Linked DNA regions of Homo sapiens: all the other regions are linked to region 5. Evidence: fine-mapped expression QTL. A gene starts in region 5. Each other region holds a variant in brackets. All regions are shown on one strand. Distances are between the middles of the regions.

Region 1 (4,103 bases), 36 kb before region 5:
CTGCTGTCCTCACTCAAGCAGTTGGTCTCCTTCCATCCCCATGCAGAAGGGAACTCTCTCTCTCTTCCTTTTTCTAAAGAGAATAGCAGGAAATTCCCATTTGCTCCTTTGCCAGACTCTACGGAGAATATTTTCTCCAAAGGTTTTTGTAAGCAACTGTCTGAATCATGAGTCATCGTTTTTCCCTTGGCAAGGCTGCATTTCCTTCTCTTGAGCACTACATTTTTATCCATGTACTAGCAAGACAGCCCTGTGTGCAGTTTCCCTCTCAAGTCTGACACAAGCTGATTTTGTTATCTCACAGGAATGCTTAAAAACTAAAATGGCTTACATTACTTAATGGAAATACACAGCAAATTTCTCTTTCCTTTCACTTTTTAATTTCTTGGCTCATTTTCTTTTTATGAAAGTCCAGAGGTAAAACAAATAACTTTCAAAGCAGAAAATGATTTACTAATCTAGAAATGCATGAATTGAAAGTCTGTGCATTGAAAGTACAAAGTTTTTTTTTTTTTTTTTTTTTTTTTTTTAAGTTTCCTATACTCTGATGGCAAAAACACAGGGCATGAAATAATACAAACCTGAGAGCTACTGTGGGTTCTGCCACTTTGTACCAGTATGGTCTTGGGCAAGTTAAATAAATTAGAAACAATCATACCCCAAACTCTTCAAGATTTCTATGAGAAATAAATGCAAAAAATGGGATGTATGACTTGGTCCAACACAGGGCCTTGTAAATACCACGGGATCTCACTTACATGTAAAATCTAAAAATGTTAATCCCATGGAAACAGAGCATGGAATGATGGTTGCCAGAGCTGGGACAGTTGGGATGGGCAGGAGAGGGCTGGGGAGATGTTGGTCAAAAAATACAAAATTACAGTTACATAGGAGGAATAAGTTCAAAGGATCTATTGTACAGCATGGTGATTGTTAATGATAATATATTGTATTCTTGAAAAATGCTAAGGGAATGGGTGTTAAGTGTTTTCACCACAAAAAATAATAACTATGTGAGATAATGCACTTGTTAGCTAGATTTAACCATTTCACAATGTATGTATAGTTCAAAACCCCATGTTGTATGCAATAAATACATGCCATTTTTATCTGTCAATTTAAAAAATAAATTAAAATAATAAAATGCCATAGAAATATTCAAGGGTTATTAAAATAACTTCTTCCATTATATTTGTTATAAGCCTTATAAATAGTTTAAAGCATGATATATTTTATATTTGGCGAACTGGCTTTAGACCAATTGGTGTCTATCAGGCATATGTGGCACCTTAGCATCTATTAAGGAAGAGTAGGCCACACAAGGGAGGAAAGCAATATTCAATACAGCTTCCTCCCCTCCAGGCTGCAACGGGATCTCTCCTAAACTCCAATATACCTTTGAGTTCCATGGATTATTTTCCTACTATAAGCCACACCCCTGAAATAATAAATGTGGTATGCATGAAAAATTCATTTTCTTTCTGTTTATCTAAATTTGTTCTTATTTCTTATGGTTTAATTGTGTTTATTAAGTCGCAAGTGCTCAACCTCCCTGGGTTATATTATAATACTTTCTGTAATAGTTGACAAGGAAGGGTTCATTTTCAAATTGCTTCATTCAAAACCCTTGACTTCATCTCAGGCTCCCATTGGCTTGGCAGGTATGTATAAAGAAGGAAGTGGGAGAGGTAAATAACCCTCCATTGCATCTACTACCTGTGTAGGACTTGTCCAGAAAAACTCCTGGCATATACTATCAATAAATGGTAGCTTTTTTTCTTCTTTGCAGGCAATTGTTACCTATTATTCTCTTGCTGAAATATAAGAGCCTCTATTTTAAAGCATCCCATCCCTATCCAAAGTAAAATTTCACAAAATCTGTAGAAATTCCCAGATAGTTCAGACAATTATCTCTGTAATTAAAAACAACACCATGACACCATGATCATGTAATTGTCTGGTCAATAAGAGCCTAACACAAAGTCCATGGGCATCTCAAATATATTCGTATAATTAGAAAATGACCTAGGCTCTTATCTTCTGACTGCATGTCCAATAAGCTTTCTCTCTTTCATTGCTCAGTTTCACAGACATTGTTGCCTGAACTCAGCCTCCCACTGGAAATCTCACTAGCTTTGGTGCCCCATACTGGACTTCTAGACTGATCTCTCTCCCTATCTCCTGGTAACCCAGCCACATAAATGCAGAAATGAAAAGGATGACAGGAACAGTGTTTCATCTGTTAGATGTCTTGTCACAGGGAACCGTTACTGGTCCCTAATAAGCCCCTGTTCCCTATTCTGTTCTTACTTCCTTATCCAGTCATTAATTGGGAATGGAAAAACACAGGCAACCCACCAGCGGAATAACTTGGGAACACTCAGACAGGGCCACAAAGCCTTCTAAAGGTTCTGAGAAGGGATTATGGCTATCAAGCTGTGGTAACTTCC[A/G]AGGAGACATCATCTTATTCAGCAGCAGCATTTTCACCAACAGTCTAAACATTCTTCTGATTTTTCCTTTTTTCCTCTCTCTCTCTCTCTTTTTGATTTGCCAGAAGTGATAAATGATAATAACCCAAAGGGAAAACAGTGGTGGAGGGAAGCAGTGAAAGAACTATTTACATTTCTGATATTTTGACCTTAATGAACTGCTCCCATCGATCAACTGGGAGAAGACTGGACCCTGTGGAACCCACTGCCTGATTGCATCTTGCTGTGATATTAAGTGGTCACCCAGCTGGTTGTGTGTGAAACACAGTTTGTCTCCAATAGAGAATAGCCTATCAACTGAACCAAAGTAGAAGGAAATACATTTTCATTCTTTCCCCCAGGTCTGACCATGCAGTAATAAGGTCTGGAGGTGCTCCAAAACGATGATCTTCAACTAGTTGCAATATTATTTCCCTCCTGGCCAAACAGTTAACCCAGAAGCACACTAGTCATAATGCCCTCTGCATGGATTATATCTTTCTCAATACAGCATTTGAATTTCAAAAATATATATATACTTGTCAAAGTGCACATTAGAGATCTGGGGATTGATAACTTAAATAATTTGCTTTAACTGGTGAGTAAATAGCAGAGGCAAGGTTCTAAGATATGCAAAACTTTAATTGGCTCAGGCAATGGTACTATTTAGTAACTTTTTATTTATTAAGTGGAAAGACTGTATTTAGGAGACATTCACATGAGTGACAATTGAGAAATTCTTAATTTTCTGTATATTTATTTACACACTATTCATTCTACACATGTGAGTTGGACAGCTTATAACATTCAAGGCATTAGAGCCACAAGGCCTGCCCTCAGGGAGCTCAGTCCTATTGCAGAAGATGAGCAGTTAAAGGCAAGATAAGTATGTTCACAGAGGTTTTAGAGAGCTATTGAAGCAGAGAATGAAGATAAGTCCTTCTTGACGCCCAGGACTGGGTTCCCTAGCTGGCAAAGCAGACAATCACAAATATCAACCTGCTTTACCCGTAGTGATGAGCCTGCCTTCTCTCCCTCAGCTTTCATTATTTTCACCAAATAATCCACATGCCCTCAAAGAAAAGAGGATTTCAGCTGCCACCCTCAGGACCCTTTCAGCTGAAAGTGATGGAAACTCAACTCCAACCACAATATGTAAAAATGGGATCTATTGCAAGAATAGAATTGCTCATAGCATCAAAGCAATTGTTGCAGGAAGGGCAGCTCAGGGGTCTCAGAAACAGGAATTGGAGATTTTCCTCTATCAGAAATCTTTTCTCCCCTCCTTTCTTTATACTTCTCCCTGAGGAGGCAGGGGGACTGGGCCACTCAGGAATCACACCCTTATTGCTCCGTGATTAGAGAAGAGAGAAAGAGTATTTTACATATATTATTGCTAACCCTTGAGTTGCTATAAGATAGCATTTTCATTGTGTTTGAAAGGAGGAAAGCAAGTAGTAGAGAATTAAGGAATCTGCTTCAAGTTCAGGGATCAGTGAAGAGCAGGGGAAGTATTCAAGGACAGGCTGGTCTTTCTGATTCCACAACTAACTAATTGCACCACACCACCTATCAACATTTGTTGAATGAATGAATACTTGAATACATAACTCATAGATCTGAATGAAAGGTAAA
Region 2 (4,071 bases), 33 kb after region 5:
GAATACCTCTAGTGAGTTTTTCATTTCAATTATCGTACTTTCCAGCTCTTGAATTTCTTTTTTGTATCGTCTTAGATTTTCTCTATATTGATATTACCATTTTGTTCATCCATTGGTTTTTTGACTTTTTCCGCATGCTCTTTGGTTCTTTAAAAAACATCCTTAAGGCAGTCGTTGTAGAGCCTTTAGTGGATCCACCATCAAGTCTTTTTCAGAGATAGTTTTTGTTTTTGTTTTCATTTGAAAGGGACATACTTTCCTGTTTCTTTGTATGCCTTGTTATTTTTTTGCTGAAAACTGAACGTTTCAATCTAATAATATGGTAACTACATCTCACTAAGGTCCCTAAGTTAATGTTTTTTTTTAAACTATTCCTTACTTTGCCTGCCTTGAGCAAGTTGTCAAATGTGAGAAACTGTATTTATTTCAGAAGTACAAATAGATACAATCTCAATGTCCAAAATATTTCCCCAAAGAAAGAATCTTACAATTATTTAAGTTTACTTATGGAGAAAACATTTTATGGTACTAAAGTGTTAAAGTGATTTAAAATTAAGGTTAAAATATGCTAAAAATTATCTTCCTTTACCCAGTATCTATCTTCCACTTGTTTATTACTGCTTTTTAATAATTATAATGTTTCCCGTTGGTTCGGATAATTTTAATATTCTTCTCGGTCTGAGTTATATGCTAATGTTGATATGACATGGTTCTCCAGGGTAGTGTTCAGATTGTATGTTCAGGGAGCAACAGCCACAATTAACAAGTTCACCTGTTTAGAATGCAGATTCCAGGGCTCCACTAAAGATAGTTGAATCAGAAGCTCTGGGAATAAGCTCAGGATCCTACCTTTTGATAGACTCCTCAAATGAGCCTCATGCACAGAAAAGTTTGAGAACCACTGCTTTTGAGTCTAAATTATTTCAGCTTTGGACAGAAAGAAAACTGCTAAAAAGAACTACTTATATAAAAGCCACCAATGTTTTCAGAACAGGGATGATTTTTTATGGCTTTAAAAATCCTTAAATAGTAGTTCTGAACATGTTTTTAACATGCCAAGTAAGAATTACTAACTAGTTTATTTTTGCTAAGGGTAGCTGGAGTTTTAAATCTCATCTAAAATAAGGTTAGTTAATTCCATATGAAAGTCAATTAGTAAAAGTATGCCTTAATTCATCACATACATGTAGGTGTCTATTGTTACTTCATGGTATTCAGCTGAATGATGGGGTTCTTGTGAAAGATAATGTGGTCTGGAATTAAGAGCACTAGGTTTGATTTGAGATCAAGCTCCATTATTTACTAACTGAATGACTCTTTGAGTTCCAGTTTCCTTAACCACTTAAAGTTATTATGAAGACTAAATGACATATGGTAAATTAAACTTTTGCAAATTATAAAGGGCTTTGCAGAAGTAGGACATTTATAACATGTTCTGTTCTTACTTCATGATGGTTTAGTGATTTATATTCTCTGACTGTAAGTTCCATGAGAGCAGGGATGACACGTTTTGTTCAGATTGTACCCCAGAAACTTGTATAGTGGCACATAATAGACACCCATAATTGTGTGTGCAACTCTATCTTTAAAGAACGCCACTACTACATCTAGAAATATATTTCAAGAAATCTATCGGCTTAATTAGGTAATGAATTTCAATTGTATCTCAAAG[C/T]GTTCCTTATATTTAGAAGACACATAAGTTTTGTTTTTTTCTTTCAACTTATATAAGTATCTTAACATGCTACTTCTAGAATATTTTAATTGTTAAGAACAATTTCTTAATAAACTTCCACTGTCTTCCTGAGTCCCCATATACATGTCAGAAATGTGTTCAAGCATTACAGCTATTTATTTGCAGTGAAACACACAAAAGTGATAACATTTCAATAACATTTTATAATTTATAAACCATATTTTTGTATTATTTATTTTAACCCTCACAGCTACTTTGTGAGGTAGATCATTTTATCCAAAAAATAAAACCAAACCTCAGGGAATAATCATTTTTATTCAGTTTCATATTTAATAATTTAGCTGGAAATGATCTTACAAGTTCCCTATGTTTGACAAGAATCAGATGAGCTTTCTAAGTTGTAGTTTTAAAGAAGTTTTTACTATTTATGAAGATTAACAGATTAAATGCAAAACTCACAACTTTATAAATAATATATATATATATTTATATATATCATACATTTAAGATGAGATTTTAAAGTTTCCAGGATCACAGTAATGTATTTCCCCCAGAAAATACAGAAGCATGTTACCTCGTCCAGGACCACAGCAGTGATGACACACATTCGTAAACGAAGATGATGCTGTTGGGTGTCTTTCCACAAGAGTGATGAAGAATGTGAACGGTTCCAGCCACACTCTGTCCCCTAGTTCCATTTGAAGTGGTTCCTATGAATAGGCTGGTTGGGTCAGAAATACAAACTGACCAAACAGGGACCTACCCTCGGGCTTTAACGAAGGCCCCATCTCTTTACCAAATGATCTGATTTCTCTTCTAAAACAGCAGTTTACTAAAGTGTTTGCTAAACCTCTAAAACTGCTGCTTGCTTTCAAAGTTACTAAGTTACTTCAAGATAGTAATTGAATCCTTAAATCTGACTCCTTATATAATTACAATACCACTATCTCTGGTTAAAATCATTTTGGAGACATTAATGTCTCACAGTTAACTTAAAAAAAGATTATTAACAGCCTTTTGGTTACCATGGAGCCATTACATTACAAATAAAACACAAAGAGGATTTTAGGCACTTGCATGGATCTTAACATCTGTTCCAAATGTATACTTTTCAAATCAAGAGTCAGAGTGTTTAGATAGTTCTGAGAGACCTATCAGGGCTCAAACCCCACACATTAATTTGTTAGTACATCTCAGCATGCTATTTGTCTTGGCCACTTATGTTTTTAAAAACTAACATTAGATGATTTGTAAGGAAACTTTCCATAAAGCTAGGAACATCTGGCCTAAAAATGCAGAGACTTCTGGTTTCTGGAGAATAAACTGAAAAATCCTAAGGGAATAATTTAATTCTCACCTGAGGTCATGCAGATAGCAAGAGAAAAGGTCTTATTAGTCTGGTGATCTATATCTTAGAATGTTTAGATGTAAGAACCTTTGGAGTTTTGAATTTAGAATCTTTAGAGGTTCCCATGAATAAGAAAATACAAATCTTATACTCAAGGCTGCTCAAAATAAAAAGAAGGAGCTGCGGAAAAAAGAATAAACATCTTATTTCCTCCCTTTTGTACTCTTCTGTTTCCTTGTCAAGGGCAGGAGCAGGGACAAAGTTTGAATGAGAAGAAACTGGGCTGAACTGAAAAGGGCAGTCTGGGGTTGGAAGACTAGGCTGATTCTTCATCTCTTTACTTGGGCATTGGTAGTCTCTGGCTGCAGACTCAAAAAAATAGAGAGTGGTTCTTTGGTGCTCACTTCCTCTTTACTACTCCTGTTTGCCATTCATGTTGCAAGCTGGCCCAGGAATCTGAAGTCCTTCAACCCATGAAGACCTACTCATTTACACTACAGACCTAAACTTCTCCGTTCCAGAGGCCTACCTATATGAGGCAGAGTTGTTTCTTTATCTGATTATAGCAATCTACATTAAGCATGAGTAAGGTTTCATCCTCTGTGGGAGTTTTCATCTTAAAGGAGGAGCTGATGAGCCTGGTGCATAGAAAGAGCAGTGGGTTCTCTGCCACTTAACTAGTTGTGTTTGCACCATTTTAAAATAGAAAATGCCTCGTTGTGGTATTGTTGCAAGAGTTAAATAATATAATACAACTGAAAGCTCAACTGTTCTGTCATTTTGATATTTGTTTTCTATCTGCTTTATAGGTATTTTGTCCCTCATTTCCTGCGTGATTGTCATCTATTGTGCTTATTTTTTTGTAATGAAGCATTTAAATACCTTTCTCATTTCCTTTTGTGTATATTCTATAGCTGTTTTCTGACACCGAGCAGTGAATGTTAGAATTCACCTAGCAGTGAATTCACCTAGCAGTGAATGTTTTGTGTATATTCTATAGCTGTTTTCTGACACCTAGCAGTGAATGTTA
Region 3 (4,102 bases), 24 kb after region 5:
AGTACATTTCAAATCTCACCACGAAAAGTAAGCGAGGTGGTAGATATGTTAATTAGCTTGATTTAATCATTCCACATTGTACACATATATCAAAATATCACATTGTGCTTCATATATGTATACAATTATGATTTGCCAATTAAAACTTAATCAAATTTAAAAGAATATATAAAGGAATAAGGTAGAAATATGACTAATCCCTTCCTAGGAATAAGGGGTGGATAAATGTATAGGAAACTTTTGCATTCTTGTTATTCCATAATTCTAATCCTTGTCTTTTCTAGGAAAGCCATGTTCTTATATGGTTGCCATACAACCCTTATTCTTTTATTAACTTCATAAACTTATTCTTGCAATTACAAAATAAGGTATATGCAGAAAATAGTCTAGAGATATATATGACAAAAATGTCAATAATGCTCTGGATGGTGGAATACAGATAATTGTAATTTTATCTTTCTGTGTTTCTGTATATGTTAGATGTCCCAAAGTATAAAACTGCGCAGTTAAATAAACCTACTAAACTTTCGATAACTTTAATTTTAATAATTTTAATAACTATAATTTCCCATCTGACAGATATAAGACAAAAACAAAGCTTATGTAAATAACAAAATCAACTAATTATACTGATAAAATGCTAGAGACATAGGTGCGGCCTGTGTTAACCTTAAACTGCATATTTGGTGTCAGTGGCAGATCCTTCACTGATGCTACTCATACCTCTGCTTGGCTCTAACAGTTGTGAACTCTTGCCTTTTCTTCATCTTTCTCTTTTTAAAAACTTTTTATGTAGGGATAATTTTGACCCATAAGAAATTGCAAAAATAGTGCACCATTCCCATGTACCCTTCACCCAGCTTACCCTAATGATAACATCTTACATCATGTTAGCATATTAACATTTCATTGCATGAAATGTTACCAAAAATATCTATACATGGGATACAATGTTACTGAACTTTAATCTTTTTTTTACCTGATACCAGCCCCCTCCCTCAAAATAATTTAGGCCAGCATTTCTCATAGAGTTCTTCAAAATACTTATTAAATACTACTGGTGGTTAAGAAGGAAGAAGGAGATATTCTAAGGCCAGTTACATTGAGGAAAGGCTAGGTGGTATTTTTTTATTACAGAATTTCTCACAATGTTAATATGTGTTCTACTATGTTAATGTGTGTTGTGAAACTCTAAGAGGAAAATATATGCACCATTTTCCAAGTTCATCTCTCTATCACCCCTATTTGTGGCTAGGTGGACAAATGTATTTTGAGATAACATTTTAAGAAACATTGTAAATTCTTCTGTAGGCACAATAAGGTATACCATGGACAAACATTCAACAAGTCATACTGCTGTAAGCACCTTGCCAACTTAATCATTTCACAGATTTCTATATTAAACTAGGTTTAGCAAAAAGATTCAGCAACTATTACAAAACTGTCATTATCAAATTCAAAATATCCTACAACTATGAAGACATATATACACATCCCTGTAACAACTTAAGGAGGAATACCTTTATGATGCCTTTCTTTTTTAACAGCATTTGCCATCTATCAATCGCTGCCTTATTTTGAATCATTTGGCACTTATTCCACCAAGCTGCCCTTTGACTTATCCATCTATTTCCCATATGTGCTGAAAATATATCTCATGATGCTCTTTATAGGTAAGTGGCTTTTTTGGTCTTGTTTTTGCATTTTTCCTGTACTTTTTGGTTAGTGCTTGCCGTCTACCTTAATATACAGGTTGG[T/C]AAACATGGGAGAGACCAAAGAGGAAGCCTGACATCATGAACTAGATCTTGCTAGTAAAGCCCCTGGAGGTTATAATGCTTTTTGCAGGGCATCATGGGATCATATATTTCACTTTCACTGTACAAATAAGAACAATTTTACTATCAGAAAATATAGCTGCATTATGTATGAGATATAGAAGTTTTGACCATGTGCACAGGTATCTACAAATAAAACCTAGATGTCAAACTAAGAAGAATTGGCTATTTCTGATGTTTCCATTTATATCCATTTTGTTTCTTGTTTGTTTGGCTTTTCAAGCTGGCACTTCCTATCAGGCAAATGGGAGTCGGTGTTACAGACTCAAGAGAAATGTATGGAACAAAAACTTACCCTTGAATAAATTTGATCATTAAACCTAATCATTTTCCAGGAAATTGGGGAAAAAACTTTCACTATTAAATTTTTGTTTTCCCAGCTCTAACCTTCACAAATCTCCAAAATAATGATTATCTCTAGAAGGTAACAGATATCAAACATATGAACAACATATAGAGAGAAAAGACAAAAATGTGAAACTTTAGAGGAAGGTGGAGAGAGCTATGCTAAAGAAAGGAAGACAATTCCTTGCATTAAAAAAAGTAGGATGGAAGAGTTTGATTTACCTCTCTTTCTGCATAAAATCTGGACACTTCTTTAAACATTCCTTCTCACATCTCCCTTGCAAGTGTCTTCTCCCTGGATTTGGGCAGCACTCTGACTGTATTTTAAAAGCATTGTTTCTTCCAGAGAAATAGTTAACCTTACTTACTTTTGCAACTTCTTTCTCCATATTAGGTATGTATTTTACCTACAGTCATCTATACTCAGAAAGAAGAGACATCCTCGGAATCTTTCCCATTAAAAAAAAGAAGATGTGAAGTACAGCATTCCAGTGTGACACGAGAAAAGACAGGCTGTGGATTCAGTGCAGTAAATAAAACACAGGAAGTATTCTGGTGGAAAAATACCTTGTATTTGATAAAAATCCATTACATGAAATAACTGCACATACCCCCAAAACTCTAGACATAACAGGCTATGTTTTTCACACATTGTATTTTTAAGACATATATATTCTCCATACCCTGCTTCACCAAAATTCCTGCTTCATTTGGATTTTATACAAGTTATACTTACATTGTATGAAGTCTGATTATTTTCCTGTAAGTTTAATGAGAAATAGGAGATTAGCTGCAATAGATTCAATTAAATTAAGAAACCAAACTTGATAACCTAAATTACATGTATTCTTTTTCACTTCCAAGTTCCCAAATAGATCTGTAGGAGAAGAGGGATGGAAAATATATTCCACAGTTGCCTAGAATAACATATTTCATAGACAGATGTCTGTCTTCAGATCTAATAATACTCACCCTAAACATTAGATATGTTTAGAAAATTAAATATCTTTCCAAGCCCTATGTCTTAGCTCAGGTTGCTATAATAGAACACCATAAACCGAATGGCTTAAACAACAGCAAACGCTTCTCACAGTTCTGGAGGCTGGGAATTCCGCTCAGGATCAAGGCATCAGCTAATGCAGTTTCTGGTGAGGGCCCTCTTCCCAGTTTGCAGATAGATGTCCTTCTTTGTCCTCACATGAGAGAGAGATCAACTCTCTTATGTCTCTTATAATGGCACTAACCCCATTCATGAGGGCTCTACCCTCATGATCTAATTACCTCCCAATGGCCCCACCTCCAAATACCATCATATTGGAGGTTAGGGCTTAACACATGAATTTTGGGGGAACACAAAGATTCACTCCATAGCATTCTGTACCTGGTCCTACAAAATTCATGTCCTCCTCACATGCAAAATACATACATTCCATCTCGACAGCCTCAAAAGTCTTAACTCATTCCTGCATCAACTCTAAAGTCCAAAGTCTCGTCTAAATCAGATGTGGGTGAGATTCAAGGTAGAATTCATCCTGAGGTAAAATTCCTTTCCAGCTTTGAACTTGTGAAATGAAACAAGTTATGTGCTTCCACAGTACAATGGTGGGACACACAAAGGGTGGACATTCCTATTCCCAAAGCAAGAAACAGGAAAAAAGGAAGGTGTAATGGGTCCCCAGCAAGTCCAAAACCTAGCAAGGCAAACACCATGAGATCTTCAGTCTTAGTAATAATCCTCTTTGGCCTGATACTCTGGCTTCAGGACCCAGTGAGGCAGAGGTATTGCCCCCAGGACTATGTTGGAGGAGGATGACCCCCATATCACCAGGCGGAAGCTGTCAGGCCTGTTGAAACCAAGGCAATGACTGCCCCTTTTGAAACTGAGAAGGTACCACTGATGTTCTCTGAATCATTGTTCCGGG
Region 4 (4,000 bases), 180 kb after region 5:
GGTTACCAGTAAAGCCCATATGGAGACAACTGTACACCTACTTTATACACTGAAAAATATAGTTATTGTTGTTATAACCAACAGAAAAAAAAATAGTGAACCTCAGAAGAATCAGAGCCTTTCCTTCTAATTCCTGTGCTGTAAAAATGACTTTGTTCTTTTGCAGAGGAACAGAGAGCTATCTCCTAATTTTACTTTCAAAAGCTATTTCTAGAAATTCCTGAGAACAGCCTACTCCTTTTGTCCTGATTCTTTACTCCAACAGAGGAAAGCTTTATAAAAAACCTTTAGGCTATGAAAACTGCCTTATTTGCCCTTTTCATAATGAAGGCAAAAGAAACTGCCTTCACAATTAAAGGACTCAAGTCATCATCACGCAGTGAAGCCCTCTTAAGCTAATTCAGCACACACAATTCATAAAACAGGATGCTTCTGTTACCAAAACACAATAACGGGATAAGAGAGATTTTGAAGAGACACAATCAATGGAGCAGAAACAATGAGAAAAATAACATTCTTTCTTATCCTAATAATATAGGGTTAGGGGTTGTTAAGTATTTTAAAAAATGACTAGCACAGGTTTATTTAAGCAATTTCACAGCCTTTTAATGTCTGAGACTAGTTTATTATCAAGGCAGCATTGTAGGGAAAAAAGAAACAAACAGATATAGATATTGAGGTACCTTTTTAAAACTCACTTATAATCTAAATGACAGTAATTCTGATGATTTTCTAACATAGTTGAACAACTTTTGTCCTGTTCATGGCAAAGAATATAGATGAACATATCTAAATCCCAAACTATGCCTTAGAGAATCAAAAATATTTGGACTTGTAGTAAAGCTACTCTCATATTAACAACCCGTAACATCACCATGACATTTCCAAAAGAGGTGTAACAGAGACTTTTTAAATTATTCTGTATTTCTGAAAAACTATTTGGCACTTTGTAGTACATACTTATAATTCTAATATCTGAATAGAACAGGTTTAGAATTGTGTGACACAAGTAAAAACAGAGACATTTATTAAACAGATTGATCTAGACTATGAAGCCACCCAAGAGACTCACTACTCAACAGCCAGAGACGTTAGGTTTCTTTTTTATTCCCCCTAGTGAGAAATTACAGGTGCCTAGGATACTTCCACAAGGAACAGTATCTTCCAATGCAAATTCCATTGATTTCTCTGCAGGAACAGAAAGAATGACACAAAGAACTCCCTATAGGGACATTCACTTTTCAGTTTTGCTAGATTCTGTCTGTATGAGTTATCTATTTTTTGGTGGACATTCTTCCAGGATGAACTAGCAAATTCATAGGAAGAATATGTCAAAAAATTCCTTGACAAGAAAATGATTAGTGCTTTATTCCCCCACAATAATCAGAGGAAATTTTTTTCTAATGGTCACTCCTTCCTCTTTTCTAATAGAGGTTAGACTCCAAGATAATAAAGGAAAATAACAGAAATTAAATCAACATAGCTTAAAACTCAATAAATCGAACTACTGGGAAGTTGTTCAACAGATACAAAATTAAAAGTAAAGCAAATTGAGTATTTACTAGCAAAAAGAATAAAAATATCATCCATCTAAATGTTAAAAAGGGCTAAAGAGGCTGTAAGT[G/A]TACTGTAGAAAGAGACTGAGAAATACAGTTTACTGTCATTTCATATTTAAGAATCAATATGCTGTGTATCAAAAAAATTGATGAATTAGGCAGTCAATTCAGAAACACTAAGACCACTTTAGAGAAAAACTTTAAACTTCAAAGATAAAGTTTTTAGGAATACCTCTTGAGTTTAGTCCACTTTACAAAGATAGAATTCCACGAATGCATTTCTAAGTAACCAATGTTGAGAGTTCCTGAAACATAACCTGATTACACGTTCAATGAAAATGATTCTTCTATCCTCCCACCCCCACCCTATGTATCCACAGATCTGGGGATAACAGAACTGATGAATTCTTCATGGATAAACAATAGGGAAAATCAGTCTTTTAAGCCTGAGTGGCTCACACAACTAACTACAACTCCCTAATAACAAGGAACAAACATGCCTGTGGTCCCTTTTCATAGAAACAAACAAGTTCCTTCTTAGGAAAATCAAGACTAAAGACAAAACCTATAATCTACAAGTTCAACAAAGAAAAAGGAAACTTTTTAGTAAAACTTCTTAGGAATTACTTTGCTCTTCAGTGCTAGAAAGCTAGTGATTCACAACAAAAATGGTTCCCCCAAAGCAAGGTTTAAACAAGGATAAACAAGATTTTTCCACCCAAACAAAAGCAGCATCTAGCACAGTGCTTGGCATAAAAAAGCACTCATCTCAAAACAAATTTATAAATACATGGTGGTAACTGACCTATCACCAGCTAGGACAGGGCAGGGCACATTTTCTGTCAAGGGCCAGAGAATTAATATTTTAGGTTTCAAGGGCCACATGGTCACTATTACAACTACTCAGTTCTACCACTGTAGCAAGAAAGCAGCCATGGACAATACATAAACAAATGAGCATGGTTGTGCTCCAATAAAACTTTACTTACAAAAAAAGGTAGTGGGCTGGATTGGAAGAGTCAGCCATGGTTTGCCAACTCCTGAACTAGACTATGTGATTATTAACTGGATACAGCTTAGCAATTAGATTAGACCAATGCTTCTTTAACTTTAATGTACACTTGAATACCCTGTGGTGAAAGGATCTCATCACACTACAGATTCTAACTCAGTAGGTCTAGAGTAGAGCCTGAGATTCTCGTTTCAAGCTGCCAGGTGACACAGAAGCTGCTAGTTATAAAACCATACTTTCAGTTACCAGATATTAGACTTTATTAGTGAATTTACTTTAAAATTTCAAAACGGGTAGGAAATTAGAAATGTGACAGCAATAAGCCCTGGATTTGACTTGAATTGTTCCAATATCAGGAATTCTGATGTGTTGCTGCCATAAAGCAGTCAAATTCACAATGAATTCCAAAGTTTAACCTTCCGCACTGCTCTTCCACTTAAAAGAGGCATGAAGATAAAAGTCAGAACATTTATGCAGATATCTGGTTTTAGAAACAGGGACATCATATTTTCTAATCCCTTTCTTTACAGATAAAGACGCTAGATGGAAAAAAATTTTAATATACCAATGGATCTAAATAATAACACCCCCCCACCCCACGAAAAAAAAAAAACCAAAACTCTTTCATGGTTTTCAACTTTATTTGAAGGTGGTAACTTTTGAAATTATTCCTACAAAATATGCAAAGGAATAAGTTTTCACTAGAGATAGACAAGACAAACCCTGACACTTAAACCAACTTAAGGTTATCTAATATTTTCATAAGACTAATTATTTATCTTCTTTATTGTTCAGTTCAAGAAATGTGAACTGAGCAACTGCTATGTACCAGGTACTAAGCTGGACGCTTTGCAGGAGGAGGTCAGTTGCTAAAACATACTTTCTATCTTCGAGGACCTTAGCATCAGGTAGTAGAGACTGATACATAAACATGCATTACAAAACCTTGTGTTAAGAGAAACTGCAGAAGTTTCATACTAGATATAGAGGGGGAAATTACCTGGTTAAGGAAGAGAGCAGAGATCAGAAAGGAGTTCCTGGAGGAAATAATATTAAAGAGCAATTATGTACCAGATGCTCTGTTGTGTCTTTTTAATTTCCAATTATACCAATTTAAATTGTGCCAATTAAATCATATATGATAAAAGAAAATCAAGTTTAAAGCATAACTGAAGGTAGGAGTCTTTAAATACTTTTTGCTCATGCAACTCCTAAAAAGTTTTGAAAAATCATGTAAATTGGCATTTAAGAAGTATAAAGACTGCAAAAGATTTATTTTCTAACATATGGTAAATACTTCCATTTTAAAATAAAATTGCTATAACATTCTACTAAGTTTATACAATTAGATAAAATGCCATAGCAATTTATATCTACCATCATCCATTTCATAAAATCCACATAAAAAATGCCTCTAACACTCCAAAATTGT
Region 5 (4,103 bases):
AACCCAAGACGCTCCAGAAAGTCAACTGAGTTATGATGTAAAGAATGGATGTGAGGGAGGCCAATTACTCCTCACCCAGGTACTGGAAAATAAGGAATGGACAAAGAACACTACTGATTAGTAGGAGATCTGGAAAGGATGGGATCAATCGAATTTGATTGGATGGGGTGCTTAATGATGACTCCCCAATTTAAAATCAAGTGGCTAGAAAAATGGTGGTCTTTCTGTGGGAAATAATGATTTAGGAAGAGAGATAGTATGCTTATTTTAAATAGGTTGAATTGGAAGACGTTCCAAAGATAGTCCAAACAATAGGACTTTCATGAGGAAATATCCAAAAGCTGCTCAAAGGCCAGAGATAGTATTCATAAAAGAAGAAAGGGCTGAAAATAATAGTCAAAAGTTGTCCACATGGAGATAAAGCCATGTGTGGTTGTCTATGCTGAGGGATAACATGGTGACAAATGGATGGTGACTAAGGGCAGACTTTTGAGGAAATACAGCAGGAGAAGAAGACCCATCCAGAGAGACAGAAGGGACATAAGGCAAGAGACGTAGAATATGTAGAACTTCAGGGGTAAATGGCAGACAGACAGAACTGGTAAAATGCAGCAGACCTGTCAATGAGGATGTGGATGCAGGGGCTGTGTTTGGTGACAAAGGATCAATTCTTCTGGGCAGGCTTTCCACCTTCTCCCTCCTGCCCCACTGCAGGCCATCTGGGACTTTACTTTCTCTCTTGCTGCTTAACCTGATCAGAGATAGCATTGATAATGGGTTAGCCACCAGTTTACCCTTTAGATCAAATGTTCTGTAAAAGCAAGGACCGTGGGGCATCATCCTGCAAGGTGATACAGGATAGGGATTCGGCGAAAAATTAACATGCTCGCGGACGGAGCAGTGTCAGGAGAGTCAAACTGTAAGGTATTATGGAACAGGAAGATGGTAGGAAATGAAAGAAGCACCTGATCAGAGAAGGCAGGCAGGGAGTTATTAGAAGATTCCATTGAGAGAGAAACAGAAAGAATACAATGTTTAATTATATGCTAAGAGAGAGTTGTCTATGTCCCTAAAGTGCAGTGAAAGCCAATGGAAAGGAGGGGATGACGATGCAAGAAGAGGCGATGGTTAACTACTGATGCAGTGAGTCTGAGAAGGGACTGGTAAACACAAAGTTGGGGTTAACCTCCGACTGAGGGCAGGGTATGAGAGAAGGTGCAGAGAAATGTAGAGGTGAGAGGTAGGCATAGTGAATGGAATGGACTATGAAAAAAGGAAGCCACGGCCTAATGGGAAACAAACAAGAAATCCCACCAACCTTGAAGTTCTGATACTGCCATTTTATCAATTGTGTGACCTGTGCCAAGTGACTTAACATTTTTTTAATGCCTCAACTTCCCTTTTGGTAAAAATGGGGGCGCTAACTTCCAACTCCAAAACCAGGTGCCATTGTCCCACTTACTTGCAAGTGCCTTCTTAGATGTTTCTGTTTTTGTTTTAACGTTTCCCTTTCTGGGCAGAGGAGCTTGAAGATGGGCTGGATCTTATTAGCAAAGCAGGAGGGTGGGTCATCTGTGTACGGAGACAGTGATGTCATAAGCCTGAGAGATCACGAAGGGGTTGTAGCAGTGCTGGGCATAGGCTAGAGAAATTAACACAACGTGAATAAAGATTTGCAGGCACCAGTGAGAACCCAAGGGAGATTAGAGAGCAGGGAGGCCTGATAGAAGAGGAATCAGGCCCCTAGCTGAAAAAGTGTTGGGGAGGTGTGCTACAAACTTCGTTTTATTTTTATTTATTTTTTGAGACAGGATCTCGCTCTGTTACCCAGGCTGGAGTGTAGCCGCGTGATCTTGGCTCATTGCAGCCTCGACCTCCCAGGCTCAAGCGATCCTCCCACCTCAGCCTCTGGAGTAGCTGGGACCACAGGCCCGCGTCACCATGCCCGACTAATTTTTGTACATTTAGTAGAGACGCGTTTTCGCTATGTTGCCCAGGCTGGTCTCGAACTCCTGGGCTCAAAAGATCCTCCCGCCTCGGCCTCCCAAAGTGCTGGGATTATAGGCATTAGCCACTGCGCCCGGCACAAGCTTCGTGTCTGAACCTGGCTCACCGGTGGGCATTGAGCAGAGCCCACCCTGGAATCCACTCATCTCGGGAGGTTTGGGGATGGGCTTCAGCGAGTTCGGAGGCCCCGGAAATCGCCCAGATGCATTAATTTCCAGAAGGCTTGCAAGGGGGTCTCAACACAAAGATTAGGAAGCTGTAACCAGAGTTTGGTAACCCCACCGGGAACGCGAGCCGCCTCCCAGCCTTGCGCCCTGACGCGCTCTAGCAGTGCTGCAGAAACTTCGAGAACTTCGTTTTCATCTCTTCCCCAACGCACGACCTCGGGCTTTTTCTTTTTGTAAACTGCTGAGTGTGGAGAGGCCCCGCCCTTCCGCGCCCAGCCGCGGGGCCGCCCCTGCCTCCTCCCCGGTACTCCTTCCTGGACCGCGCTGGAAGCCCTGGCGGCGGCGGCCCATGGGGCCCTTGGCGCTGCCCGCCTGGCTGCAGCCCAGGTAGGGCGCTCGGCCGAATCCCGAGGGGAGGGGGCGCGGGTGGAGGGCCTGGAGGCGGGAGCTCCCCTCTGCGGCGGGCGGGCGGGCGGCACCCCCCGCCCGCCAGCAAGGCGCAGCGCTACCGTGCCCAGGCACCCCTTGGAGCTCATGCAGGTATTTGCTAACTTACCCCTCTTGACCACCCTAGGAAGCAGGCTCTGTTATTTTCTCCATTTTACAGTTGAATGGGAAGGACAGGCTGCATGGCTACCCCTGCCCTTGTGAGCCCTCTGCCAGTACTTCCCTCCCCCCAGGAGCCTTCTCTTGACTTTCTCAGACGCAGAGTTGCGGGGTGATTTTTAGATGTAACAGCCGTGGAAACACCTATCACACGTATAGATTTCAGGGCCTAGTTCCGGCGGGGAACAGATTCAGTCATATAGCGGTAGGGCCTGGGGGTGTATATGTTTAACCCACAAGCCAGGTAATTCTGATACAAGCTGAAGGAGGATTTCCTCTTCCCAAACCCTTTAGCAGTTCCTGCCTTTATAGGGGAGGATGTCCCCAAATAAAAATCATTCTGCCTCCCAGCTTATTTTCCTTGTTTCTAGGAGGTTTCACATCTTCAAGGAGGAGTAAATCTTGACCACACTGGCAGGGCCACTCCCGTCACTCTTCTGAACTCCCAGGGAACATTTCAAACAGTGCTTTTCCTAACTCCCTCAAACCATCTATCTGTCAATCTTCTCTTAGTCATCTCCCCAGCAACTCACAACACATTGTTAAACCCAGCTTGACTTCCCTCTTCTGGTATGAGCAACTAAACTGCTTTCGATATGTATCTGATGAAGGAAACTATCTACCCTTGCAAAATGTTAATAGGCAGTGGCAAGATGTTAATACTAACCTCAATCACATAATGTGTTCAAAAGTCAGGTGTGTCCAATTACTGAATTACCCAACATTTGGATTACTCCCATCCCTACCCCCCTTCAGAACTAAAACACTGTGTCTCAAGTTCTGCACTTAGCAAGCTGAGCTACTGGAACACATAGTGACATGTCAACCACTCTGCACACATGGATTTTTTGTTGTTGTTGTTGTTTTGTTTTTTATTTTTTATTTATTTTTGAGAACAGAGTTTTGATCTGTCGCCCAGGCTGGAGTGCAGTGGCGCTGTCTCGGTTCACTGCAGCCTCTACCTCCCAGGTTCAAGTGATTGTCCTGCCTCAGCCTCCTGAGCAGCTAGGTAGCTGGGATTACAGGCATACGTTACCACATCCGGCTTTTTTTTTTTTTTTTTTGTAAGTTGCCATGTTGGCCAGGCTGGTCTTGAACTTCTGGCCTCAAGTGATCCAACCCGCCTTGGCCTCCCAAAGTGCTGGGATTACATGCCTGAGCCACCGCGCCCAGCCTGTTTTGTTTTTTTAAAGAATATTCAAAGCCACCTTCGCAGTGGTTTCTTTTATTCCTTGGTGAGCAGCAAGGTTAGAACTTTATCAAAGATGAAAGCAGATTTTGAAAAAGCACTATATTTGGTTTTAAGCAAACTCACTATACAGA
Region 6 (4,000 bases), 75 kb after region 5:
CAAGACGTTATGTTAAGTGAAATAAGCCAGGAACAGAAAGTTAAATAGCACATGTTCTCACTCATATGTGGAAGCAAAAAGAAAGTTGATCTCTCAGAAGTAAAAAGTAGAAGAGAGAATACTTAGAGGCTAGGAAAGAGCAGGGGGAAGAAAGAGACAAGGAGAGACTTGTTAAAGGATACAAAACCACAATTAGATGGAAGGTATAAGTTCTAGTGTTCTATACTACTGTAGGGTGAGTATAGTTATCAATAATACATAGTTTCAAGTAGCTAGGAGGAGGAATTGAATGTTCCCAACACAAAGAAATGATAAATGTTTGAGATGAGAGACACACTAATTACTCTGATCTGATCACTATACATAATATCATCAGAACATCTCTATGTACTCCATGAATATGTATAATTATTCATCAATTAAAAATTTTTTTTAAAAATTTCAAATTTACTTAAAAAAAAAACCAACCTCTTAAACAGTAAATAAATGTACAGATGTTCAGACCTTCTGGCAATTATATGCAAATGAGAGCAGTCTTAAGGTATCATTTTATACCTGACTGGTTTTTATTGTTATCATTTGTTTTTTGGGCTGCTTTTTAATATGACATTATAAAAGAAGGAATTTATTCTTTATATTGTTTTATAAGTACTGTTACATAAAGTGACTCATAATTCTTACAAAACTCTATAAAAAACAGTCAATTATTTTCTCCATTTTACAGAAGTGGTCAAAGCTTACAGACACAGTTTGCCTGAAGTTATACAGCCAGTAAGTAGTGGAAGTGGGATATGAACCCAGGCAGCCTGACTCCTATGCTTTTAACCTCTATGTTTTATATTTTTGCAAATTCATACAGGGCTGAGGTACTGAAAACTGGCAAAGCTTTTTGAAGGGCAACGAGGCCTGGCCATCCCTATAGTCACCAAATCCTTGGACTCCTGCTCACTACATTACTGAGAATTTATCTGAAGGAAAGCTGTAGCAGAAGAGAGCTATATGCATAACGATGTTCACTAAAGGCCAGGTATGGTGGTGCATACCTGTAATCCACTTTGGGAGGCAGAGGAGGGCAGATAACTTGAGGCCAGGAGTTCAAGACCAGCCTGGCCAACATAGAAAAACCCCACTAAAAAAAAAAAAAAAAAAAAAAAAAAAAAAGAGAGAGAGATATCTATGCTATCTATCTATCTATCTTTGGGCTTGGTGGCACTTGCCTGTAATTCCAGCTACTCAGGAGGCTGAGGCAGGCCAATCACTTGAGCCTGGGAGGCAGAGGTTGCAGTGAGCCGAGATCACGCCACTGCACTCTAGCCTGGGCGTCAGAGCAAGACTGTCTCAAAAAAAAAAAAAAAAGAAAAGAAAAGATGTTCACTAAAATTGAAATTTTAAAAATGACCAATACGAAAATGATTAAGTTTATTATGACTTATGAATTTGATGAAATATTCTATAGTCATTTAAAAATGATCATTATGCCATGTACAGTGGCTCATGCCTGTAATCCCAACAATTAAAGAGGCTAAGTCAGGAGGATTGCTCAAAGCTAGAGTTTGAGGCCAGACTAGGCAACATTGTTTCCATCTCTACAAAAAGTACAGAAATTATCTGATCCTGGTTGTATGTACCTGCACTCCTAGCTACCTGGGGGGCTGAGGCAGAAGGATCACTTGAGCCAGAAAGTTTGAAGTTGCAGTAAGCCATGATCGTGCCAC[C/T]GCACTTCACCCTGGGTGATAGAGCCGAGACCTTGTCTCAAAAATAATAGCTGTTATTATACAATTGTTATGGTGATATATGAAAACAGGGAAAGTTTATAATATAATATTAAGTTCAAAAATACAGGCCAGGCACGGTGGCTCACACCTGTAATTCCAGCATTTTGGGAGGCCGAGGCAGGCGGATCACCTGAGGTCGGGAGTTCAAGACCAGCCTGACCACCACGGAGAAGTCCCGTCTCTACTAAAAATACAAAAAATTAGCCAGGCGTGGTGGTGCATGGCTGTAATCCCAGAAGCAGCAAATTAAGTAATATCCAGAAATGATAATAGCTGTAGAGTCATGGGATAATTGGTGACATTTTTCCTTCCAAACATTTTCATGAGGTTTATGAAAACAAACCTCATGAAACAAAAAAGGAATCAAACACACCAAAAACATATGCTATTGACAAATGTCCAGAAACCAATGCAATAGGATTCTTTTCTTACTTCCTCAAGGCTTTTTTTGGAAGACATGGGTGCTAGTTATGTCCATTTGCATGTAAAGTCATTACTTTTTTTAAAATAGGACAATAAAATAATATACATTTTATGGTACAATATAACACATACACATACATATAGGAGGACATTATGAAGGACATATTTATAATGGCTATCTCCAAGTGGTGACATGACAGAGGATTGTCTTATTTTCTTCTATATACACTTTTAACTTAGTATTATACAGATATACTGACTTCTGATAATATTTTTTAAAGAGTTGTACAGGTAAACTATTTCTAAATTAAAATACTCAAAAATCACACATAACCTTGGCAACCAACTCCATGATTTCATCAGAAAACAGGACAGCTTTCTCGTATTATTTATTCTACTCAGAGTTCACTAAGTCTGTTCCCTTGGCATATTTCCTTCTTAACAATTACCTCTCATGGTAATAGTTCAAAAATGACTGAAGGAGCATATGCCTACCTGTACTTCGTATCCAAGCCCAATACTTACACACGCAGATCACTGACCAATTAGCCCATATCAAGAAAGAAAGCCATTCATAATGACTATTACGTGGACTTAAATATACTTTGCTTAGTTAATACTTCTTACTGTGAATTTTTAAAGCCTAATAGGAAAATATAAGCTTAGAAAGTGTTAGCCACATTCCCCAGCAATATAATAACAAAAATAATGCTATTACATAGAAATATCTAATATTAGCATTAGAAAGAATCACTTTTATTAAGTACTTTAAATATGTTTCTAATGTATTATAAAAGAAGTGGATAAAATCTTGATGAGATATGAACAGCCTATGATCTTGAGAAAATCAGAAATCAGACAAAAGAATAAAAGTAGAAAAGAAGCAAAAAAGTAAAAGTCAAAAGTCAGAGGTTCTTCAGGGGGAAAAAATATCCATGTTAGGAGGAATTAGATGATGAGCAAAGATTTTAAGGCTAGCGTAGTCAAGAAATGTTCACAAGAACAGATAATAATGACGACAAAAGATTAAGGAACAATATATCTGATAGAGGAATTCCAGGGCTATGAGAGAAGAAAGAAGAATGTCACATGGTATAGCAAAAAAAAAAAAAAAGACCCAGTTATAGTCAAAACCATGAATTGAATTATTTAAAAACTGAGGGAATCTCATCTATTTAGTATCTTTTTAAAATGTGGGTCTGCATGAAAGAATGGATGCTATGAACATCTTATATGTTCTATCACATGAGTACTAAAGTCAGTATCCTAAGTGAGAAAGCCCTAAACATTAGAAAACAGATTAACAGATTCACTATCTCAAATTTGATTGGCTAAATTTGAGACCACCATGCCCAAACTCATCCTAGCACAAATGTGGATTGGGGATGGCCCATCACATTTCTTTCCTCTAGTGAGTTGCTGAAGTTAAAAGTAGCAAGCAGAGACAATGAAACCATGCCATCCCTAAACTTTTCTGCCTATGCTAAGCATTATTTTTATTTTCTAAAACCATTTATTCCTCAAAAGAGTTCACTAAAGTTGCCATCCTTCCTATCAGCAGTCCCACCGGGCTCTGATGAGTGACATCCAGACATTTAAACTCAAAAGCTGCTTCAGAAGGGAGTTATTAAAATTCAAATGAGCTGGGTATATTGAAGAAGAAAACACTCGTTTGCATGCACACCTCCGCATTTGGCCATCCCATTTAGCCCCACAGAGCAGGGTCTGGTTTTGTTTTTGTAAATGGGCTTTGGAGGCGGAGGTCAGCCTCCCACGGCCCCCACTCCTCTGGGGTCATCATT
Region 7 (4,103 bases), 55 kb before region 5:
TATAATATATATTATATGTATTATATTGACTTTAATATATTATATTAATATATATATTTCAATATATTAGATATATTGAAATATATATATATATATTTCCACTTTAAACTTCATTCTGCCTTTGGGTACCATGGCCAAACATTCAGTTTGCCAAGAGAGACCTTGTTTGGAGACTGCTATTTTGGGTTATAGTGGACTCTTGAACAACATAGGGATTAGGAGTACTGACACCCGTGTAGTTAAAAATCTGTGTATAACTCTTGATTCCTCAAAACTTAACTACTAGTAGCCTACCTTTGACCAGAATCCTTACCTATAGCATATAGTTGATTGACATATATTTTTGTTATATGTATTATATACTGTATTCTTATGATAAGGTAAGATAGAAAAAAGAACATGTTAACAAGAAAATGATAAGGAAGAGAAAATATATTTACTATTTATTAAGTGGAAATGAATCACCATAAAGATTTTCATGCTTGTCTTCATGTTGAATAGGCTGAGGAGGAGAAGGGAGAGGAAGGGTTGGTCTTGTTGTCTCAGGGGTGGCAGAGGTGAAGAGGTGAGGAGGTGGAAAGAGAGGCAGAAAAAGCAGGCACAGTGTAACTTTATGGAAATAAATCATAATTTCTGTGTAACTTTTTTGCTTTTTTGTTCCTCTAAAAATTTTTATATATATGGTAGCAATCATTCTTCCATCATTTGCTTTAGTTGCAGTGCCCATGTTGTAGAGGGGTCCATGTCATAAAAGAAGCCAAAAGCAGTCTTGAATAATCAGAACTCTTCTGCCAGATTGTCTAATGCCAATTTGTTTCCTGGCACTTCTTCTCCTATATCTTCTTCCTCATTGTCTGGCACTGGTTCAGAAGCACTTATCTCTGTCAAGTCATCTTCTGTTAATGCCTCTGGTGTGGTGCCTATTAGCTCTTGAATTTCTCCAAATCTATATATTGAAACCTATCTCATTAAATTGATCTTCAATCTCTGATATCCTCTCTTCTGCTTGATCAGTTCAGCTCTTGTGTATGCTTCACGAAGTTCTTGTGCTGTGTTTTTTAGCTCCATCAGGTCCTTTACATTCTTCTCTAAACTAGTTATTCTAGTTAGCAATTCCTCTTTTATCAAGGTTCTTAGCTTCCTTGCATTGGGTTAGAACATGCTCCTTTAGCTCGGAGGAGTTTGTTATTACCCACCTTCTGAAGCCTACTTCTGTCAATTCATCAAACTCATTCTCCATCCAGTTTTTTCCCTTGCTGGTAAGGAGTTGTGATCCTTTGGAGGAGAAGAGGCATTCTGGTTTTTGGAATTTTCAGCCTTTTTGCGCTGGTTTTTCCTCATCTTCATGGATTTATTTACCTTTGGTCTTTGCTTTTGGTGACGTTCAGATGGAGATTTTGTGTGGTCATCCTTTTTGTCGATGCTGATGCTATTGCTTTGTGTTTGTTAGTTTTCCTTCTAACAGTCAGTCTCCTCTTCTGCAGGTCTGCTGGAGTTTGCTATGGGTCCACTCCAGACCCTGTTTGCCTGGGTATCACCAGTGGAGGCTGCAGAACACAAAGATTGCTGCCTGCTCCTTCCTCTGGAAGCTTTGCCCAGAGGGGCATCTGCCAGATGCCAGCTGGAGTGCTCCTGTATGAGGTGTCTGTCAAACCCTGCTGGGATGTGTCTCCCAATCATGAGGCACGGGTGTCGGGGACCCACTTGAGGAGGCAGTCTGTCCCTTATCAGAGCTCAAGCACTGTGCTGGGAGATCTGCTGCTCTCTTCAGAGCCAGCAGGCAGGAACATTTAAGTCTGCTGAAGCTGTCTGTGCCCACAGCCGCTCCTTGCCCCAGGTGCTCTATCCCAGGGAGATGGGAGTTCTATCTATAAGCCCTTGACTGGGGCCGCTGCCTTTCTTTCAGAGATGCCTTGCCCAGAGAGGAGGAATCTAGAGAGACAGTCTGGCTACAATAGCTTGGAGGCGCTTCAGTGGGCTCTGCCAGGCAGCTTTTTTTACACCGTGAGGGGAAAACTGCCTACTGAAGCTTCAGTCATGGTGGATGCCCCTCCCCCACCAAGCTCGAGTATCCCAGTTTGACTTCAGACTGCTGTGGGGGCAGCGAGAATTTCAAGCTAGTGGATCTTAGCTTGCTGGCCTCTCTGGGGGTGGGATCCGCTGAGCTAGACCACTTGGCTCCCTGGCTTCAGCCCCCTTTACAGGAGAGTGAATGGTTCTGTCTCACTGGCATTCCAAGCACCACTGGAGTATGAAAAAAAACTCCTGCAGCTAGCTCGGTGTCTGCCCAAATGGCTGCCCAGTTTTGTGTTTGAAACCCAAGGCCCTTGTGATGTTAGCACCCAAGGGACTCTCCTGGTCTATGGGTTGCAAAGACCATGGGAAAAGCATAGTATCTAGGCCAGATAGCACCATCCCTCACAGCATGGTCCTTCACAGCTTCCTTTGGCTAGGGGAGGGAGTTCCCCAACCCCTTGTGCTTCTCGGATGAGGCAACACCCCACCCTCCTTCTGCTTACCCTCCATGGGCTGCACCCACTGTCTAACCAGTCCCAGTGAGATGAACC[G/A]CGTACCTCAGTTGGAAATGCAGAAATCACCCGCCTTCTGTGTTGGTCTCGCTGGGAGCTGCAGACCGGAGCTGTTCCTATTCCTACAGTAAGTTTTATTCGTTCATGTTTTTATGTTATTAACTAGAATCCTTTTACTCAGCTTGAAGAATTCCTTTTAGCATTTCTTGTAAGTAGGTATAGTAGTGCCATCCTACCTCAGCTTTTGTTTGTCTTGGAAAGTTGTTATTTTTCCCTCATTTCTGAAGGTCAACTTTGTTGGGTAAAGTAATCTTGGTTGGCAAAAGAAACTTTTAAATATATTAAACTAAATGAAAATAACACAACTTAACAAAATATGTGGAATCCAGTGAAAGCAGTGCCTATAGGGAAATTTATAGCACTGAGTGCTATATTAGAAAAAAAGAAAGTCATAAAAATTAATCACCTAAGCTTCTGCTTTAGGAAAGTAGAAAAATAAGAGCAAATTAAATCCAAGGTAAGTAAAAAAAAAAAAAAAAAAAAGAAATAAAAATTAGAGCAGAAATCAATAAAATTGAAGACAGTAAATCAATAAAGAAAATCAACATAAAAAGTCTGGTTCTTGAAAAGATATATAAAATTGATAAGCATCTACCTAGGATAATTAAGGAAAAAAGACAGAGGACACAGATTACTAATATCAAACATAAAAGCGGGAACATCACTGCAAATTTTATAGGCATTGAAAGCATAATAAAAGAATACTATAAACTATTCTATAACTACAAATTTGATAAGTAAATAGAATGAACCAATTCCTTGAAAGACATAATCTGAAAAATGTAAAAAGAAGAAATAAACAATCTGAATAGCCTATATCTATTAAATAAATTGAATCAGTAATTAATAACCTCTCAAAACAGGAAGCACAATGCCCAGATGGGTTCACTAGTGAATTCTATCAAATATTTAAAGAAAAAAAAATTGTATCAACTTTCTACAATCTCTTTCAGAAGACAGAAGCAGAGGGAATACTTCCTAAATCATTCAACTAGGCCAGCATTACCTTAATACCGGAACTAGAAAATGACATTACAAGAAAAGAAAACAACAGACCAATATCTCTCATGAACAAAGATACAAACATTTTCAACAAAATATTAGCAAAAAGAATCCAAGAATGTATCAAAAAATATACACCACAACCAAGTAGAATTTATTCCAGATATGTAAGGGTGGTTCAACGTTTGAAAATCAATTAACGTAATTTGTCCCATCAACAGGTTAAAGAAGAAAATCACATGGTCATATTGATAGACACAGAAAAAGCATTTGACAAAATTTAACACCCATTCATGATGCAATCTCTCAGTAAACTAGGAATAGAGGAAAACTTCCTCAGCTTGAATGTACCTTCCTCTCAATTTTGCTATGAACCTGAAACTCCTCTTAAAAAATAAAGTTTTTCATTTAAAAAGAAAACAAAAAACATGGAGGAGCGTTGATGTATCTCATTTTAGACCAATCAGCTATGGATAGTTAGGCGACAGCACAGATAGCTGTTGTACTTCTGTT

Evidence for each region. PIP is the estimated chance that this variant, and not a neighbour inherited with it, causes the effect.
Region 1: its variant is fine-mapped to the expression of HACD4 in transverse colon (GTEx, PIP above 0.99).
Region 2: its variant is fine-mapped to the expression of HACD4 in whole blood (INTERVAL, PIP above 0.99).
Region 3: its variant is fine-mapped to the expression of HACD4 in whole blood (TOPMed, PIP above 0.99).
Region 4: its variant is fine-mapped to the expression of HACD4 in whole blood (TOPMed, PIP above 0.99).
Region 6: its variant is fine-mapped to the expression of HACD4 in whole blood (INTERVAL, PIP 0.96).
Region 7: its variant is fine-mapped to the expression of HACD4 in whole blood (INTERVAL, PIP above 0.99).

Annotation. Positions count from the first base shown.
Region 1 is chr9:21,066,361-21,070,463 of GRCh38, reverse strand. No RefSeq gene overlaps it. Among named protein-coding and RNA genes, the nearest start is that of IFNB1, 9.5 kb to the left of the region's middle. The variant A/G (reference allele first, on the strand shown) is at 2,451.
Region 2 is chr9:20,997,249-21,001,319 of GRCh38, reverse strand. It overlaps HACD4 (3-hydroxyacyl-CoA dehydratase 4), which reads left to right. Exons shown (of 7, transcript NM_001010915.5): 7 at 1-1,811. Among named protein-coding and RNA genes, the nearest start is that of HACD4, 32 kb to the left of the region's middle. The variant C/T (reference allele first, on the strand shown) is at 1,673.
Region 3 is chr9:21,005,592-21,009,693 of GRCh38, reverse strand. HACD4 (3-hydroxyacyl-CoA dehydratase 4) reads left to right here. Exons shown (of 7, transcript NM_001010915.5): 6 at 1,548-1,673; 7 at 2,575-4,102. The coding sequence ends at 2,657. Among named protein-coding and RNA genes, the nearest start is that of HACD4, 24 kb to the left of the region's middle. The variant T/C (reference allele first, on the strand shown) is at 1,758.
Region 4 is chr9:20,850,393-20,854,392 of GRCh38, reverse strand. All of the region lies in intron 15 of FOCAD (focadhesin), which reads right to left. Among named protein-coding and RNA genes, the nearest start is that of SNORA30B, 65 kb to the right of the region's middle. The variant G/A (reference allele first, on the strand shown) is at 1,625.
Region 5 is chr9:21,030,011-21,034,113 of GRCh38, reverse strand. HACD4 (3-hydroxyacyl-CoA dehydratase 4) reads left to right here and starts at 2,474. Exons shown (of 7, transcript NM_001010915.5): 1 at 2,474-2,561. The coding sequence starts at 2,524. It overlaps LOC105375989 (a long non-coding RNA gene), which reads right to left and starts at 2,472. Exons shown (of 3, transcript XR_007061435.1): 1 at 2,114-2,472; 2 at 1,463-1,642; 3 at 195-751. RefSeq lists an enhancer at 2,135-2,695 and a silencer at 2,339-2,698.
Region 6 is chr9:20,954,835-20,958,834 of GRCh38, reverse strand. All of the region lies in intron 35 of FOCAD (focadhesin), which reads right to left. Among named protein-coding and RNA genes, the nearest start is that of HACD4, 75 kb to the left of the region's middle. The variant C/T (reference allele first, on the strand shown) is at 1,716.
Region 7 is chr9:21,085,488-21,089,590 of GRCh38, reverse strand. No RefSeq gene overlaps it. Among named protein-coding and RNA genes, the nearest start is that of IFNB1, 9.6 kb to the right of the region's middle. The variant G/A (reference allele first, on the strand shown) is at 2,568.